4 linked regions of the Homo sapiens genome follow. The protein of the gene in region 3 interacts with the protein of the main gene of each other region in a pairwise test. Each region holds a gene or a part of one and is shown on either strand. Other genes may lie near its edges.

Region 1 (4,211 bases), on a different chromosome or scaffold from region 3:
AGAATGTTACTGAAGGAAGCTGGCCACCCCTCAAAAGCAGATTCCTTCTGAGGATCCAGTGCGTATTCTTCATACCATATATCACACTTTGTAGCTGAAGGGCTAGATCTGTGGCTCTGTCATGACTGCCTTCCAGCAGACTGCAGGCTCCACAAGAACCCGCACTGTGTGGCTTGCGTGGCCCTGTGTCACTATCACCAGCACAGCGTGCTGCATGTGGTAGGTGATCAGATAGTGTTAGCTGAGTGAGAGAGCAAACTTAGGAAGACACATGTCCAGGACTTTGAGATCTGGTCTCAAAGGGACCCAGGAATACAAGTTTTTGTGAAAAATGGATGGAGAAAGGGAGAGAGCATTGTTTCCCTGATCTGCTGGTGGAAAGACAAGCTGAGCCTCCATCCCCCACACCCAAGGGACCCCTGTGTCTCAAACAGGGGGTACAGGTTCTTCTCCACTCTCAGGCAGAGATGCCAGCTGCAGACTGGATACTCCTCCGGGCTCAGGGAGCTGCCACCATGCTATTTCCTGTGCCCAGAACCCCTCCTGCCCACACTCACTTCTTCTTGTAGCCCTCCAGCACCTCCTGCACGTGGTTGAGCTCTGAGGCCAGCCTCCCACTGTCAGCCTCCACGCACTCGGCCTCCCGCCGCAGAGTCTCGATGTAGCCAGCAAACAGGGGCTCCAGGTTACTCTGGCAGCACTCGCGGTTTTGGTAGAACTGCAGCTTTGTCTCCAGCAGCTTGTTCTGCTGCTCCAGGAAGCGCACCTGCCACCCAGAGGCAGAGCCTAAGAACCTCTTCTTGCAGCATCAGAGGACAAAGAGGGGTTCCCAGCACGAGGGCCTGAAAGCCCCCAACTCTCTGACCCAGAGTCTTCCCTGGAAGGCGTTATGTCATCTCTCTCAAAAATGCCACCAGGGCTTAACCAGTTCACCACCTGGAAGTTCTTCCTGGGAGTTAATCTCTTCTAAGTCAGTTTACCTGGTGTCATGGAAAATGCTTGAAGAGTCCAGATTCTGCTGCCACTTGTTAACATTGTGCCCTTGGATAAAGCACTCACCTCCTCTGTAGAGTGGCGAGGTTAAAGCTCACCTTACTATGAGGATTAAAAGAACCCTTTAACAGAAAGGCACCCCACACTGAACAGCTACTGCTGTTCAATCACACCAAGCCAGGTGGACCTTTTTAGAAAGGCAAACTGTAAAAGTTGAAAAATAAAGCATGTGCCAATTATTCAAACCCTACAACAACAATGCAATTAGAATAATAGTCACCTGCAATATGAGAGTAGGAATGTCCTGTGCTCCAACCCCCTTATTTTACTGATGAGGCCAAGGAGGTTCCCTGACTGCCTGAGAGCTCACAGTGGCAGAGAAGAGCTCAAACTCCGATCTTCTGCGCTGCAGGGGGTGTCTTCTCTCCCTTTGACAATTATAGGAACATCCCTCTCCCAGCGATGAGGTTGGCCCACTACTCCACTCAGCTTCTTTTGTCTAATAACTTGGCCACACCCTTGGTAGGTCCTATCTTATGCTATCCTTGGTCTCTCATGCTATTAGAAATTCCACATTTTTTTTTCCCGATCCTTTCTGGTGGGCATCTCTCTAGTGTGACTCCTCTCTTGAGGTTTTGGCTCTGGAGGGCTCTTTCCAACCCCAGAACATGTTCCTAGTCAGAGCCTTTTCTCCCAGTCTCTCACATCACTGCCACATGGTGGTTGCCTGGATTCAGTGGAGAAGGTGGCTGCAAACTCTAGTTGGACACTGACTACACAGATGGTTTCAACCAAACCCAGACTGTGCACTGCCTGCCTCCCCATAAAGCCTGTGAGGATGGGGACCATGACTCTTGCTCACCCCTGGATCCTGAGCCCCAGGAACAGTGGCTTGGACAAAATACTCTAGACCCTGCTCAGTGGCCAAATCACTGTGTGGTATAGAAAGAGTTCTGTGCCATCCACGAGACCCACTTCCAGACAGTTTTCCAGCACCACACTTATTAGCCCTGCCTTGATGGAGACAGCATCTCCTTGGCATTTAAGCAGTTATTTGGCTTCAAATGCCCTGAGCGCCCACACAGTGGTCCTTTGCTCACTAGGTGATATTATCACTCAGTGTGGAAGGCTCTGCCCCTCGTTCTGCTTTTGTGTTTTCAGTTAATCTCCCCCATCAGTCTGGTAGCTCCCGGTCCCATTTTTGTCTTTCTGTCTGTGTCCTAGAAGTATGACTACCTTTCCCTTTGGCCTGGGAACTTCTGTGGGCAAGTTCTTGCCTTTGACTTCCCTGTCAGTGCCCAGCCTGAGTTCTGAACATGAGTAGGGGTTCAGGAAGGGTGTGATCCAGGACGACACCCACCTTGTCGATGAAGGCCGCGAATCTGCTGTTGAGGGACTTGATCTGCTCCTTCTCCTCCTGCTTCACGCACTGCGCGTTGGGGTCTATCTCCAGGTTGAGGGGCGTGAGGAGGCTCTCGTTGACCGACACGGTGGTGATGCATGGGGGGCTGGGTCCGCACACGCCCCCGGAGCGGTAGCCGAAGCTGCGTCCGCAGGAGCCGGCGCGGAAGCCCCCGCACACGCTGTGGCTGCCAAAGCCCCCGGTGAGGCCGCGGTAGCAGGAGATGCCGCGGTAGGGGGCGGCGGTGATGCAGCAGCGGCTTGGCCGGGGCCCGCAGGCAGAGACACAGCTGAAGTTTCCAGGGCGGAACCCACAGCCTATGGAGTTGAAGCCACAGGTCATGACGGAGGTTAGGAGGTGTCTGAACAGTGGAGTAGATGGCAGAGGATGGAACCAAGGGCCTGTGCTCCCTGGCTGATGGCAGGCCCTTTTATGTGCCAGGGGCAGCTGGTGTTAAAAGAGGGAGCAAAGAGACAATAGCTGAATTTTATTGGCTTGGCATCACCCTGGCCTCTTAAGCTAGAACCCTGCTTGCCTCTTCAGTGTGGCTGCATCAACAATCCCTGGCCACGGGCCCTGTTTCATCTTCAAAGCCCTTTATAAGCTTCCTCCTTGCTCCTGCCCCTCCCACTGGCACTGCTGTGGAGCGGGGAGAGGGGTTCCTGAAAGCATTAGTTGCATTCTGCGGTCCAAGCGAGGGGAATGGGTGCAGTGACCTGGGGTAAAGCCTGCTCTCTGAACCCTGTTCTGAAAGGGGCAGAGCTAGGCTATGGGCCCTGGACCCATGGCCAAGCCCTGGGGTGGAGTGGCTGGCCTGTCCCAAGGAGGGGGCTGCCTCTGAGACAACCTCTTGCTGTAGGCTTTCCTGTCTTTTTCTCAAAGGCGGGTTCCTTTCCTCATTGTCAAGATTGGCCGCTCCTATCCTATTCCTGCTCAGAGCCTGGTCAAGGATGGGAGTGGGGGTAGAGATTTGGGGTGGGAGGAGGGCATGTTCTTTGCACTTTGGGTATTCCTAGTGCAGGGACACCATCTGGGACATGGAAGAAACTGATTCAGAGAGTTCAGGACAGTGCCAGGGCTATGCTTCAGAGTTCCAGGTGTCATTGCTGATGGGATCAGGAGCGGGGAGTGTGGAATACCTCAGAGCTCCAGGGACTCATGGAGGAGAGTGGGGACCTGGGCTTGAGGAGGATTGGGGTGGGGTAGTACAGGATTGAGAGATGACCAGAAAAGAGTCTGGCTCTGATTTGCAGACTAGACTATGTGTATTCATTTATTCATTTATTCATTTATTCATTTATTCAGGAAATACTTATTTGGTGCCCACCAACTATGCACTAGCCACTGTGCTAGGTTCTGGAAATCCTACAGAGACCTGGGGTGTTTGGAGGTAGCATGCATGTGGGGGAGCCAACATTTGGCTAGGGGGAAAGATGAGAAGCCACAGATGGGGGGAAGGCCCTCACAATGTCCAGGCTGATTGGTGTTCTTTAGGTTCCCAGCAGGGAAGCTCAGTGATGGGGTCTTGGGGTGTATGTACTCACCAGGAAGGAGGGAAGGTGCGGGAGGTGAGGGACATCAGCAGGGTCCTTAAATGAGATCACTCTCTCACCTCAGAGAACACACTGGGTGAGAGAAGGGTGCTAGCTCATGTGGCTGTTCCTAAAGCCAAGCTCTCTTACTTTGGGCCCTTGTTCCTTTGGGTTAGGACAGGCAATGGCTTTGATGGATGGACAGTCGGACCGAGCCAGGAGGTTTGCCTTAACCCGAGGACCTGAGCCCATCAACCCTTCCAAACACACATCTCTGGACTGCT
Region 2 (3,500 bases), on a different chromosome or scaffold from region 3:
TGCATCACCACCGTGTCGGTCAACGAGAGCCTCCTCACGCCCCTCAACCTGGAGATCGACCCCAACGCGCAGTGCGTGAAGCAGGAGGAGAAGGAGCAGATCAAGTCCCTCAACAGCAGGTTCGCGGCCTTCATCGACAAGGTGGGTGTCCTGGATCACACCCTTCCTGAACCCCCACCACCTACACAGCCAGGGCCGGGCACTAAGGATGGAGTCAGAGGCACAAAGACCTCTGCCTGCCTGAGATCCCAGTCTGATGGGCGAGGCACACAGACACACAGACAGACAGACACATGCACAGACACACACACACAGGCACTCAAGATGCAGACTCAGCTGACAGTTCAGATAGAGGGAGCTTGTGAAGGAAAAGTGTGGCCAGGCTGCTCTGGGGCACAAGCTAGACATCAGGGAGTTGGGGGAGGGGGGCATGTGACCACTGCTGCTGAACTCAGAGGGGTTTGGGCAGCCCCAGGGTGAGAGAGTAGGGTGCACTGACTTCCAGATGACACAGGGGAAGGGCTGGGACAGCTGAGCTCCCTTCCAGATGGCCTGTGACACCCTCTTCCTGGCACCATCCCCAGAAACCTCATCTGTGATCTGAACCTGAGTACTCTGCCTGTGTGGGTTGCTGATCACCTAGTTTCATAGTGAGGGACTGAGCCTCTACTTCTGTTCATCTGCTTGGGTGGGGGGTGGGGGGGGGGTCACTCAACTCCCCAGGGAGCAGGCACTGACACCACCCAGCCCTTGCTCCACTCCTGAGTGGGAAATCTAGACACAGATCATGACCAGGAAATCCAGAAATTGTCTGTCTCCCACTGCCCACCTCTACTCAATCTCAGATAAGCTCCAGATTTGGGGGTTCCCATTAAAGCACCTCCCCTGCGAGCCCCCAGAGCTGGCTTTGGGGCACCAGACACCATCTGCCCCACCTTCCCACACCGAATGGCAGGTGCGCTTCCTGGAGCAGCAGAACAAACTGCTGGAGACAAAGCTGCAGTTCTACCAGAACCGCGAGTGTTGCCAGAGCAACCTGGAGCCCCTGTTTGAGGGCTACATCGAGACTCTGCGGCGGGAGGCCGAGTGCGTGGAGGCCGACAGCGGGAGGCTGGCCTCAGAGCTTAACCACGTGCAGGAGGTGCTGGAGGGCTACAAGAAGAAGTGAGTGCGGGCAAGAGGGATGCTGGGCACAGGAATGGGGTTTAGGTTAAATACACTGGATTAGACAATAAGAACTCCCAGGTAGGGTGAGTGGCCATGACCACTAGATTGACCGAGGGTGGCGGGGTCTTTTCCTTTGTGGAATCTTTGCCCAGACACCTGTGTAAGAGGAGGGCTGTGACTCCCATGACCTGTCTCTGTCCCACTTCAGCCTTCTCTCCCTGAACCACATCACCCAGCAGCTCTCCCCTGCGCTGGGTGGGGAGGAAGCCTCTGCAGGGTCCAGGCCTTCTCTCCTGACCCTCAGCCCCTATACTTGTAGCACCTGTCAGATGTGAGCCCAGGGTCTCTCATGAGTGACAGGTCTTGGGCTCTGGGTGTCGCACTGCCTTAGGTTCTAAGTCCTGAGGGTCTGCGGGTCCAGGAGGCCCCATACCTGAGCTGGGATTGATACCAGTGAGGGGAGGCTAGGGCTACAGGCCCTGAGAGTCCACGCTGTCCACTCCCAGGATGGGGCTGGGGGCTGAGTCCTATTTGCCTCCTGGGGGACCTCAGAGCCCCTTTGGGAACAGGACTGGGAGGTCCCAGATGAGCACTCTCCATCCCCAGTTCAAAGTGGATAGAGAATCCCAGACACATCCCACATCCAACTAGAAAGCACTAAGCTAGGCTGCCAGGCCGGGGCTGTGTGGAGGTGTTTCTAGTACTGTCCCCATGGCTGTGATGAAGTGTGATGTGATGGTGGCTCTGCAGAGACCTGCCCTGCCCTGACCTCCCCTCTCTTCCCTCTGCTCTGTCTCAGGTATGAGGAGGAGGTTTCTCTGAGAGCAACAGCTGAGAACGAGTTTGTGGCTCTGAAGAAGGCAAGTGACACAGGATTGAGAAGCACAGATCTGTGGGATCTCAGAATGACAGATTCTTCCTGGGGACACACAGGGGGTCTCAACCTCAGCGTGGGGCACAATGACCTTTCCACAGCAGGCTAGGACTGCCCAGATGCAGGCCTTTGTATTGAGCATCCAGGGCCTTGACAAAGGGCAATGACTTGGGAATATCTACCAGCACCTACCTTGGGCAAGGGGATGGCTGCACTGTCCTCTGTGTGTCCTGCTCTGTTCCAGAGGTTGTGGTCTATTGCTGAGGCCCCTGGAGCCATAGCAGATACAATGTCTCTGCTGAGAGACAGTGCAGTCTGTCTAGCATTTTGGGGAGTCTGACCTTGAGGCAGAGACACAATCCCAGGTTCTAAGGGGGGATGGAGAAGAACCAGGAGTAGCCCTTGGGCTTTTGGAGCACTGCTGGGGGACAGGAAAGGGTCAGGGTGTGAGAGCTGGGGGGTCAGTCTGGGCAGGCTTCCTGGAGCAGGAGAGGGGAGAAAGGAGAGATAAGAGGGTAAGGAGCAGTGAAAGGCTGGTGAGCCGTGCCCAAGACAAACAGGGTTTGTCCTCAGAATGGCAGAGGATGCCAGGTCACCCCGGGAAGGGCCAGAAGGGAAGGAGAGGGCATGGGAATGAGACACTGGGGACTCCTTTCCCCAGGCTTCATGGAATGGGTGGGAAGAGAGAGGAATCTAGAGGCTGGATCACCAGGGTCCTTGAGCTCCAACACTCCCCACCTTTCCAGGATGTGGACTGCGCCTACCTCCGCAAATCAGACCTGGAGGCCAATGTGGAGGCCCTGATCCAGGAGATCGACTTCCTGAGGCGGCTGTATGAGGAGGTGCGGGCTCAGGGGCCAGGCAGAGACCTGGCAGCCAGCAGAGAGGAGAGATGGGGGTGGGAGTGTTGGACAGGATGTGGGTAGAGGTTGCAGTCCCTGAGGCTGTGTGAGGGGGCAGGGTTGGGGACCAGAGAAAGCCTGAGGAGGTGGAGTCAGGACATGGTGGGTGGGGCTGTGTTCTCAACTAAAGTCACTGCCCTCACCTCCTGCAGGAGATCCGCGTTCTCCAGTCCCACATCTCAGACACCTCCGTGGTTGTCAAGCTGGACAACAGCCGGGACCTGAACATGGACTGCATCATTGCCGAGATCAAGGCACAGTACGATGACATTGTCACCCGTAGCCGGGCTGAGGCCGAGTCCTGGTACCGCAGCAAGGTGAGTGGCACAGGACACCTGCCTGCTAGACATGGCAGTGGGAGGGATTTGAGATTATCTATTAAATAGGCTTCCTTTTCTGGGGATGCACTAGGGATGAGAAGAGATGGCTGCCACTCTGATGTTGGGGTGGTAGGGCAGGACTGCCATGTGTGGTTGCACAGGCTGAGCACTGCACAACCTGCAAAATCATCTGTCATGCCCTGAATGGGTGGGAGGTCCCACCCTGAACCTCATGAG
Region 3 (3,409 bases):
AGAAACTTTGGCCTTTTCCTCTTGGATTCGGGATGGCTGCTGCAATTACAGTCATTACATCTATTGATGATAGCATCCTAAACATGAAGGAAAAGGATATGGAGAGTATGGGAACACAAGAAAATTCCCCCTTTTCATCAGCATAAATTTTTTTTTTTTTTTTGAGACAGAGTCTTGCTCTGTCACCCAAGTTGGAACACAGTGGTGTGATCTCAGCTCATTGCAACCTCCGCCTCCCAGGTTCAAGTGATTCTCCTGCCTTGCCTCCCAAGCAGATGGGACCACAGGTGCGCTCCACCACAGCCTGCTAATTTTTGTATTTTTATTAGAAATGGGGTTTTACCATGTTTGCCAGGCTGGTCTCAAACTCCTGACCTCAGGTGATCCCCCCGCCTCGGCCTCCCAAAGTGCTGGGATTACACGCATAAGCCACTGCGCCCCGCCAGCATAAATTTTCTTAATCTTTTTTTTATTCTTTTTTTTTTTTTTTTTGAGACAGGGTCTCACTGTCACACAGGCTGGAGCGATCATGGTTCACTGCAGCCTCAACCTTTTGGGTTCAGGTGATCCTCCCAACTCAGCCTCCCAAGTAGCTGGGACTACAGGCATGCCACCACATCTGGCTAATTTTTGTATTTTTTGTAGAGATGGGGTTTCGCTGGCCAGGCATGTTGGCTCACAGCTGTAATCCCAGCACTTTGGGAGGCTGAGGCAGGCGGATCACTTGAGGTCAGGAATTCAAGACCAGCCTGTCCAATATGGTGAAACCCTGTCTCTGCTAAAAATACAAAAATTAGCTGGGCATGATGGTGGGCACCTGTAATCCCAACTGCTTGGGAGGCTGAGGCAGAAGAATTGCTTGAACCTGGAAGGCGGAGGTTGCAGTGAGCCGAGATCTCGCCATTGCACTTCAGCCTGGGTGACAGAGTAAGACTCTGTCTCAAAAAAAAAAAAAAGAGATGGAGTTTCGCTATGTTGCCCAGGCTGGTCTCAAATTTCTGATGTCAAGCCATCTGCCTGCCTCAGCCTCCCAAAGTGCTGGGATTATAGGTGTGAGCCAGCACACCCATCCCATTTTCTTACCCTTGTTGGCCAGAACTATGTCACATGATCACCTCATCTGAGAAAGCAAATATGTAACAGTAGGCTCATGGCAAAAATCTGGATTCTGTTGGCAATAAAGAAGTGAGGAAGGCTGGGCTCGGCTCACGCCTATAATCCCAGCACTTTGGGAGGCCCAGGCAGGGGGATCACCTGAGGTCAGGAGTTCGAGACCAGCCTCGCCAACATGGTGAAACCCCATCTCTACTAAAAATACAAAAATTAGCTGGGCGTGGTGGCGCAAGCCTGTAATCCCAGCTACTCGGGAGGCTGCGGCAGGAGAATCGCTTGAACCCAGGAGGCAGAGGTTGCAGTGAGCTGAGATTGTACCACTGCACTCTAGTCTGGGCAACAGAGCGAGACTCCATCTCAAAAAAAAAAAGTGAGGAACAGCTACTGGGAATAGGTGACCAACACTATGTCTCATACTGGGATTACTTTCTTTCAAACTGTGCTACAGGATCCTACTGATGAAGTGTAAAGCTTATAATCATCGTAATTATTCATATGAGCCTGGTTTTTGTCTTTAATTTACCCTGAGATAATTTTGTCTCTGGTGGGATGCGGCAGAGATCCTCTCCAATTTGTTTATTTTTGAATTTGTTTTTCCAAGAAAATGCAGTCATCCTTCAGTATCTGTGGTTCCAGGACCTCACCAGATACCAAAATCCATGGACACTCAAGTTTCTGATATTAAGTGGTGTAATATTTGCATATTACTTTTGGATATCCTCCTTTTTAAAGTATAAAAGTATATATTTTATACTTTAAAATAATCTCCAGATTACTTATGACAGCTAACGTAATGTAAATGCTATGTACATTACAAATTTACATAGGAAATTTACAAAGTTGTTGTAATGTTAAGGGAATGATGACAAGAAAAAGAGTGTACCTGTTCAGTACAGACACAATCCAGTTTTTTTTTCCTGAATATTTTTAGTCTGTGGTTGTTTGAATCCATGGATGCTATACCCATGGATATGGTGGGCCAACTGTAACATCATGAGTCTTGAAATGAAAATCATTAAGAAGCCAGGCTTTTTTTGACACATACTTTCTTTAGAAGGTAAGTTTGGTTCTTTTATAATCTTAACCATGGTATGACACTAATATTTTTCTTTTTTCCTATCTAGCTATCTCTTAAAAACAAAAGCCATAGTAAATGCATCAGAGATGGATATTCAAAATGTTCCTCTATCAGAAAAGATTGCAGAGGTAAAATTTCATGATGGTTGTATGCTTTTTTAAAATACAGACAACTCTTGATAACTTCTACCAATGAACTTGGGGATGATGAAATGGCATGATGCTCAATAATCCTTTTTACTTGATTTGACCTTCCCTATTGAATTTGTAATGAAAAACAAAATACTAAAACCACACTGTAAGGTATAGTTCAGGAAGAAAGGAAAAGCTGCTCAACTGCTGCACTCCTGCATTCTCCTTTGTGCTGGGAATGGATATCATCATCTTGCCATAGAGGTGTCTTCTTTGCAAATACCTTGTAATTGCTCAACTGTCTCAGACATAAGAGTGATGAAACAGTTATTAAGAATTCCTGGCCGGGCGTGGTGGCTCACGCCTGTAATCCCAGCACTTTGGTAGGCCAAGGCGAGCAGAACATGAGGTCAGGAGATGGAGACCATCCTGGCTAACACAGTGAAACCCCATCTCTATTACAAATACAAAAAATTAGCCGGGCGTGGTGGCACGTGCCTGTAGTCCCAGCTACTCGGGAGGCAGAGGCAGGAGAATTGCTTGAACTGGGAGGTGGAGGTTGCAGTGAGCTGAGATTGCGCCACTGCATTCCAGCCTGGGCAACAGAGCAAGACTCTGTCTCAAAAAAAAAAAAAAAAAAAATTTAGCCGGTCATGGTGGTGGGCGCCTGTAATCCCAGCTACTTAGGAGACTGAGGCAGGAGAATCGCTTGAACCCAGGTGGTGGAGGTTGCAGTGAGCCGAGACTGCGCCACTGCACTCCAGCCTGGGCAACAGAGCGAGACTGCGTCTCAAAAAAAAATAATTCTTGCCTGGGCGTGGTGGCTCACGCCTGTAATCCCAGCACTTTGGGAGGCTGAGGCGGATGGATAACCCGAGATCAGTAGTTCGAGACCAGCCTGACCAACATGGAGAAACCCTGTCTCTACTAAAAATACAAAATTAGCCGGGCGTGGTGGCACATGCCTGTAATCCCAGCTACTTGGGAGGTTGAGACAGGAGAAGCACTTGAACCTGCGAGATAGAGGTTGTTGTGAGGCAAGATCATGCCATTGCACTCTAGCCTGAGCAACAAGAGTGAAAATCTG
Region 4 (2,411 bases), on a different chromosome or scaffold from region 3:
CATCTCCTGGGTTCAAGTGATTCTTCTGCCGCAGCCTCCCGAGTAGCTAGGATTACAGGTGTGCACCACCATGCCCGGCTAATTTTTGTATTTTTAGTAGAGATGAGGTTTCACCATGTTGGTCAGGCTGGTCTCGAACTCCTGACCTCAGGTGATCCCCCACCTCAGCCTCCCAAAGTGCTGGGATTATAGGCGTGAGCCACCGCACCCAGCCAAAACCAAGTTTTAATGGAAGCTTTTCTGACTTTTTAGTGTTGGCAGTTGATTTTGAAATTTTAAAACTATCGTGTAGGCCAAGTAAAATATCTGTGGGCTGCCAGTTTTCAACTCTGCTCTGTGCAGATGCCTGGGGGCCACTTTTTTGGCTCAGTTGGTGCCATAAGTTGTGGGGCACCTTCTGAGTCAGCTACACATGCCCGTACACCTCAGGAGCCCCTTTCATTTCCCGGAATGCTAAACTCCCCTTACCCAGTTTAAGTATGGGCTGGGCGCGGTGGCTCATGCCTGTAATCCCAACACTTTGGGAGGCCAAGGCAAGCGGATCACATGAGGTCAGGAGTTCGAGACCAGCCTGGCCAACATGGTGAAACCCCATCTCTACTAAAAATACCAAAAATTACCCGGGCATAGTGGCGGGCACCTGTAATACCAGCTACTCAGGAGGCTGAGACAGGAGAACTGCTTGAACCCAGGAGGCAGAGGTTGCAGTGAGCCAGGATCATGCCATTGCGCTCCAGCCTGGGCAACAAAAGTGAAACTCTGTCTCAAAAAAAAAAAAAAAAAAAAAGTAGGTATGAATTCCAGGCACAACATCTGCTTTGTTCACTGCAGCAGATCTCCAGTAGGCCAGAGCCCAAGCGCAAGAGGTTCAAGGTCCTTACTGATGGGGCTCCCATGTGGAGCCTTGAGTACCCTGCCTTTCACCTGTTCAGCCTTCTCTCTCCCCTAGTGAGTGCTCTCACTGGGAAGATGGCAGCAGGCTGACATCTTGATCTGGCCAGGCAGGCTGACAGGTCTCATAGTAGTTTGGTCACTGGCTCCTGCCATGGCAGGGCGCAACAGGCAGTCACTGCCCCCATGCTCGAGACCATTGGTCCCCTCAGTCTTGCCCTCTCCCTGGGCATCCCCTTACTTCCCAAAAAAGAACCTGGGGTTCTTTCCTGGTAGGGCCAGAGACCTCCTTCCCCTAGGTCATTTCCTTCCAACAGAGATCAGTCAAGCTCACGGGGCTTTGGATCTGCTTGTTGGAAGGTGTGTGTGTCATGGGGACAGGTCCTGGCTGCCTCCCCCAGAATATTCTAAACCCCTCCTGTGGGACACAAGCCCTCCTGAGCCAGTCTGGTGATGTGAACCTCACCCTGGCCAGTGCCTCCCACCCCTACAAACTCCCCTTGTGTGGTTTCAGTTTGGTTTTTACACTTACATAGTTCTTTACTCTCAAAGGGATTTTCTAACCATTCTCTCACCATCGGGTGCCACAGGCTTTTATTTTCAAAGAGTCACACAAATTTCTAATTCTTTTTCCCAAACGAACTTCACAAGTAATTAATTCCACTTAGCTGGACGCCTGGGAAGGAGGTTCAACAGTCCTCGTCCCATGACCCGGTGAACTCATGTCTTCATTCTCTCCCTTCACCTGTCTCCTCTTTTCCATGCTGTGCCTTCACTTTTTACCAGGTCTTCTCTTTTGAAATCTTAAATGCTTAGACATTTCTGTATTTTCAGAGTTTGTGTTCTAGTTAATTCTTGTCCAACCTTTTTTTTTTTTTTTTTGAGATGGAGTCTTGCTCTGCCGCCCAGGCTGGAGTGCGGTGTCGAGATCTCGGCTCACTGCAAGCTCCGCCTCTCAGGTTCACGTCATCTTCCTGCCTCAGCCTCCCAGGTAGCTGGGACTATAGGTGCCCGCCACCACACCTGGCTAATTTTTTGTATTTTTAGTAGAGACAAGGTTTCACCGTGTTAGCCAGGATGGTCTCCATCTCCTGACTTTGTGATCCACCCACCTTGGCCTCCCAAAGTGCTGGGATTACAGGCGTGAGCCACCACGCCTGGCCTTTTTTTTTTTTGAAGCGGAATCTCGCTCTGTCACCCAGGCTGAAGTGCAATGGCACGATCTCGGCTCACTGCAACCTCCGTCTCCTGGGTTCAAGCAATTCTTCTGCCACAGCCTCCAAAGTAGCTGGGATTACAGGCATGTGCCACCACACCCAGCTAATTTTTGTATTTTTAGTAGAGACGGGGTTTTACCATGTTGGCCAGGCTGGTCTCAAACTCCTGACCTCAGGTGATCCACCCGCCTTGGCCTCCCAAAGTGCTGGGATTACAGGCATGAGCCACTGTGCCTGGCCCCTTGTCCAACCTTTGAAGACAGTAGGATTTTCTTTCTGTAGGAATCAGAATTTTCCAAGGTG

The links. Proteins that work in one complex are often made in the same cells at the same time.
Region 1: the proteins of OIP5 (region 3) and KRT83 interact in binary tests that used the Homo sapiens proteins (3 or more experiments, as listed by UniProt).
Region 2: the proteins of OIP5 (region 3) and KRT86 interact in binary tests that used the Homo sapiens proteins (3 or more experiments, as listed by UniProt).
Region 4: the proteins of OIP5 (region 3) and SPATA24 interact in binary tests that used the Homo sapiens proteins (3 or more experiments, as listed by UniProt).

Annotation. Positions count from the first base shown.
Region 1 is NC_000012.12:52,318,599-52,322,809, forward strand, and holds the start of KRT83 (keratin, type II cuticular Hb3), read right to left. Parts: upstream 2,801-4,211; 5' UTR 2,738-2,800; coding exon 2,354-2,737; intron 767-2,353; coding exon 558-766; intron 1-557.
Region 2 is NC_000012.12:52,302,145-52,305,644, forward strand, and holds part of KRT86 (keratin, type II cuticular Hb6), read left to right. Parts: coding exon 1-141; intron 142-955; coding exon 956-1,164; intron 1,165-1,966; coding exon 1,967-2,027; intron 2,028-2,787; coding exon 2,788-2,883; intron 2,884-3,095; coding exon 3,096-3,260; intron 3,261-3,500.
Region 3 is NC_000015.10:41,312,183-41,315,591, reverse strand, and holds part of OIP5 (protein Mis18-beta), read left to right. Parts: intron 1-2,237; coding exon 2,238-2,319; exon of another isoform or gene 2,320-3,409. UniProt on the Homo sapiens protein: Required for recruitment of CENPA to centromeres and normal chromosome segregation during mitosis.
Region 4 is NC_000005.10:139,398,679-139,401,089, reverse strand, and holds part of SPATA24 (spermatogenesis-associated protein 24), read left to right. Parts: intron 1-2,411. UniProt on the Homo sapiens protein: Binds DNA with high affinity but does not bind to TATA boxes. Synergises with GMNN and TBP in activation of TATA box-containing promoters and with GMNN and TBPL1 in activation of the NF1 TATA-less promoter.